Homo sapiens: one gene and its partner. The protein of the gene in region 1 purifies or fractionates together with the protein of each later gene. This does not show direct contact. Each region holds a gene or a part of one and is shown in the gene's direction. Other genes may lie near its edges.

Region 1 (2,677 bases):
ATTTAAAAAAACTGGACATAAACTAAGTCTAAGAAGAGGGCTTCTGAATAACTTCATTCATTTTGGCATTTGTTAAGAGATTCCTGGGCTAGAAGGTTGATTTCCCAAAAAGACAGATAAGAGACTGACAATTTAAAAGAATCTGGAGACAGAGCTGGTGCTTACAGAGACCTGCCACTCCTGTGTTCACTTACAATTTCTCCCAACAAAAGGATTTCTGTGGCAAGGAGAAAACTAGCCTAAAGTTTAGAAAAAGATGGTTTCTTGGATAACATTGTTAACAAAAGGACTTCCTGAGGACTATTTATTATTATTTTGTAGGGGGCACTTCCTCCTTCACTAAACTGGATTATCAGAACGTATTACCACCCAACCCATATTTTAGAAGTTTGGATTTGGCTGCTGATTAGAAATGAATTTCAGGCTATCTCCTCCTACTGAATCTTAATTGTCTGTGATGATGGCAACAGTGATGGGGAATCTAAGCGCTGGTTTGATGGTGGAGATATTGAATAAGTAGTTGGGAGCAGAGTTCCAAAGATGTAATTTAAGCCCTGTTGCACCACCACACACACACACACACACACACACACACACACACACACACCCCTCAAGTAAAATGAGAGATCTGTCTTAGCTAACACGTGTGCCGTTTTATACAATGACTCCTTCTAAAAGCAGCCAGGGAAACTCAAATCGCTTCTGTCCAGGGATCATCTCAGGAAATGTAGCAGCCTAGAAACCAGAGACCTCTGTATATCCTTTGGAAGAGCAAGGAGGAACTAATTAAGAGATAATTAAAAAATAGTAACTATCCCCCAATGTCTGAGATGGAAAAAGGAAAAAGACACATGGGTAGCCCAAATCAACCTGCCTGAGTAAGTATCTGATTTTAGTAAGGCATTTGACAAAGACTGTCCAGCTATACCTGAAAGATGAAACAGTGTAGGCTGGGTGATGGAGCAGATATATGTACTCAAATCATGGTGTTTATTTAACCCAGAGAAAGGCCAGCCGTGGTGTGCTACAAGGTTCAGTCTTGAGTCCTATTCTGGTCAAATATTTTTATTAATTACTCGAATAAATCAGAGTACATGGACAACTTTATACAACTCCTTGAAGTAAGTACTATTATTATTAATTTATGACTTCCATTTCACAAAAGAGGAGACTGAGGCTCAGTGAAGTTAGGTAACTCCTTCATAGTAGCATGCCAGAGTGAAGATGCAAACCTCAGACCTGGTTCTCCAATGTTCCTGACACCTATCGAATTTAGAGAATACACAACTCTTGCAGAGGCAGCTGCTATTTAGTATTGGATCATGATTCAAAAGACACCTTGCTAGAAGCCAATGAACAGCAGGCCAAAACAACACTTACTTGCATCAAATTTCATCTGACTTAAATTCTTACACTTTGGGCTACAACTTAAAAAAGGCTATGACTTAGTGGAAATTGGCACTTTTAAGTACAATATGAATTAATAGTATAATTTCGCTGTCCCCCAGAGATAATGCTAGTACCAATCGAAAGCTCAGGGATGCTACTGTTGACGCATCAGCAAGAGTTCTTGAGCAGTTTTACCTGTCCATCAATACAAAGAGTTCCCACAACAGTAGTGGGATTCCTCTGCCTCTCTGAAGATATGAGAGCTATAGGAGGGATTCCCATGTTGGAGGTTAGAAGAGCTGACCTCCAATGTCCCGTCTAATTCCAAGATTCTCCAATAATGACTTTGGAACAGCTGTGTACAGATTATACTTGGAATTATGCTTAGATACTATTGCTGCAGGAATGAATAGACAAATTTTGTTATTAAAAAATTGATTTTATTAAGTGGAAGTTGACAGAATTATCCTCTTTATAATGGAGGAACATTATGCTTATGCATATGCATATACCTTATGCATATGATTATGCTTGTGCTTCCTTCTTTAATGGATTTACCTATTCAAAAGCTTAATAAATGTTATAAGACTCTAAAACATTTAAATCTTTCATTTCTCAATTTTATCAAATAAACATTCCTGGAATTTGTGCATATTTTTTCATCCCGTGTTTTGGTTGTTTCTTCCGTATAGACCAACACCAGACTTTAAAAAACATAATTTATTTTTGTTCAGTTTGAGGCACTAGTTATTTTAGTGATGCTTACTTAGCCACTAGTGCTATTCTCCTAATATTTCTGTCTTCCAGGCATCCATAATGGGGTCGCACTTCTTGGCTCTCTGATGGGTGGATATGGCCACGTGGTTAGTTCTGGCTAATGAATTGTGAGTGGACGTGATCTCTGTCACTTCTGGGCCAAGCATTCATTTGATTGCCAGTATAAGACCCTCCAAATTTCTTTCCTTTTTTTTTTTTTTTTTTTGTTCTGTTTTTTGAGACGGGGTCTCACTATGTGGCCTAGGCTGGCATGCAGTGACTATTCACAGGTTGTGATCATCACACACTACAGACTCAAACTCCTGGGCTCAAGCAATCCTCCTACCTCAGCCTCCCAAGTAGTCAGGACTACAGGTGTGCACCACCACATCTGACTCAAATTTCACTTTACTTTCCCTCGGTTCCAGTGACCAGCAGTGTTTAAGATGATCCCAGAATGAGGAGATGTAGAACAGAGTTCCTGGATGACATATGATGAAGGTGTAGTGGAAGAGAGAAGTAAAACTTTATT
Region 2 (2,631 bases), on another chromosome or scaffold:
CAGCCTGGGTGACAGAGTGAGACTCCATCTCAAATGAAAAAAAAAAAAGGTATCCTCTAAGCCTAATGAAATAGAAAGTTTCATCATTACCGTTTCATTCTTTTGCTTTAGAATATTACACAGGCTTTGTTACTTACCCAGGACAAGCCATAATTTCTCTGAGACTCAGTTTTCTTATCTGTAAAGTGAGAAGAGTAAGATCTATTTCACAGAGTAGGGATTAAATGATAAAGTGTATGTAGAAGAACTTTAAACACTGAGTAGTGCCTGCTGTCTGTAAGGCATTATTACAAAACTACCACAGAGAGGGATAACATTTGTTCACATCAGTTACACTTTTGTACATTTTAGATCTCTCGAGAGGAGGATGCTTCTGCCCATGAGAGACTCTTGAAGATATTAATTAAGCTCACAGATTTCTACTTTGTGTTTAGTGTTCAGGAAGTCCCCTTGAAATCACTTTTACTTTACTTTGACTTCAGTAGGAAGATAGTTCATAATGACACCATCAAAGTAAGTTTTAAGCGTTTCGGGCCTGCTTTTCTCAGGTTTGAGTTTTTATAGTTTGTAATGATTTTTTTAGTAAAATAAGCATATGATTAAAAGTTTTATATTAACTACTACAACTTTTAAGTATCAGTTGCTTCTACATAACCACTATATTTACTGTTCTGAACAATACATACTTCAAAGCACATGAAATTGAAAAAGCAAAGCATCTTTACTCTCTTCATAGAGAACAGAAAAAAATATTAAACTTTTAAGCATTATAAAATACTTTATTGAATAAAATGTTAGCAAGTCAGCAATTGATGAATAATTTGCTTTGAAACTTTAACTTGTAATCTGGCTAATTAGCACTAATTTACAAACTATTCTACATTGTAAAGGAGAAATGAATTTCTGGTGTTGTCCTTCTTTGATTTAGAAGCTTAACATCTGCAGGACCTAATTGGCCATTGATGTGAGGGTGAGGAAGAAGGAACCACATCGCAGGGAGAAAAGACTAAAGGAAGGCAGAGGCTCTAATATCAGGTCAATATAGGTCAGCACACTACCCACATGAAATGGCTTTGGCTGGGTTCCAAGGTCAAGTAAATAAGATCAATTTTTTCATTCCTTCAATTACATATTTTTTTGCTAAGCTTCGGTCATTCATGGTATACAATGCATCTAACTTGCTGAGCAAAATGCTAGACATGAAATAAATGTTAGCTATGGTAGAAGAGCTTCAGTAACAGGTAACCTGAAACAGGCTGATAGCTCATAGAAGGGCATGCTTGAATTCGGGGAAAAAAAAAAATCTCTGTTAAAATGGGATGCAAAACACTTTATACATTGCTTTTACAAAAGTTAGACTAATTTAAAGGAAAGTCTTCAAAAGCAATCCGTGATCGATAAAATTACAGAAAAAAATCAGGAAAGGGGGAAATAATAAGGGAAGAAAGATTAGCAGAACAATCTTCCGCCCCAGTAAAGAGGACTGAATTTTAACCAATGAGATCACAAGTTTGAAAATTTCCTTTTCAGGCCCAATCAAGAGGAGGCTATGTCTATAAATACGACTGCCTAGACCCTCTCGTATCAATGAGACAGCATGGCCCGTACTAAGCAGACTGCCCGCAAGTCGACCGGCGGCAAGGCCCCGAGGAAGCAGCTGGCTACCAAAGCGGCCCGCAAGAGCGCGCCGGCCACGGGCGGGGTGAAGAAGCCGCACCGCTACCGGCCCGGCACCGTGGCTCTGCGGGAGATCCGGCGCTATCAGAAGTCTACGGAGCTGCTGATCCGCAAGCTGCCCTTCCAGCGGCTGGTACGCGAGATCGCGCAGGAGTTTAAGACGGACCTGCGCTTCCAGAGCTCGGCCGTGATGGCGCTGCAGGAGGCCAGAGAGGCCTACCTGGTGGGGCTGTTCGAAGACACGAACCTGTGCGCCATCCATGCCAAGCGCGTGACCATCATGCCCAAGGACATCCAGTTGGTCAGCCGCATCCGCGGGGAGCGGGCCTAAGGTATATTTTTAAGTGGTCGATCTAAAGGCTCTTTTCAGAGCCACTGCCGTTTTCATCAAGAGCAGCTGTACCGGCTCTCCATCTGATGTGCGTCTGCCTTGCGCAGCGGTCAGGGGCCAGGGGCACTCGTGGTGGGTGACGTTACAGAACCCAAAGCCCAGCCGTGAGTTGGCCGGCAGTAGAGAAAGCCGCAGAGGCATGGTCCTTGTGGTTCCGGCCGAGCCTTTTCACGCTGGTTTAAGGCTAGAGGTCCGGCTCCCAATTCTGTGGGTAAAGTTTTGCATGGGGGCAAGAGACTATGGGGAGTTTCTAGATGTGGAAGATCCTGAGTGTAAGGGTGGGGCGAGTCCCTTAAAAATTATAAACTCGTTTCCTGGTTTATTTAGGAACTATAAGCTTAATTAAAGCTCAGCATCTTCCTCATTGCATACTACAGGCGGTGTCCAAGCCAGAATAGTAATTTAAGCGGGCGGGAGTAAATATCTGGCGATTTTTAAAAATGTGTGGGTGAGGTAGTATTTCAAGGAAGAGAAAAAAATTTCCACAAAGTATAGAATAAAAATGCAAAAACGAGGCAAGAGAGTTAACTTGTCTAGCTGGCGTTAAGATTTCTTCCGTATGC

The links. Proteins that work in one complex are often made in the same cells at the same time.
Region 2: the proteins of CDK15 (region 1) and H3-7 purify together in Homo sapiens (affinity purification with mass spectrometry; 2 studies listed by BioGRID and IntAct, with this or other methods). This does not show direct contact.

What each region holds. Positions count from the first base shown.
Region 1 is NC_000002.12:201,893,508-201,896,184, forward strand, and holds the end of CDK15 (cyclin-dependent kinase 15), read left to right. Parts: 3' UTR 1-2,043; downstream 2,044-2,677. UniProt on the Homo sapiens protein: Serine/threonine-protein kinase that acts like an antiapoptotic protein that counters TRAIL/TNFSF10-induced apoptosis by inducing phosphorylation of BIRC5 at 'Thr-34'.
Region 2 is NC_000001.11:143,904,933-143,907,563, reverse strand, and holds H3-7 (histone H3-7), read left to right. Parts: upstream 1-1,586; 5' UTR 1,587-1,597; coding exon 1,598-2,008; 3' UTR 2,009-2,054; downstream 2,055-2,631. UniProt on the Homo sapiens protein: Core component of nucleosome. Nucleosomes wrap and compact DNA into chromatin, limiting DNA accessibility to the cellular machineries which require DNA as a template.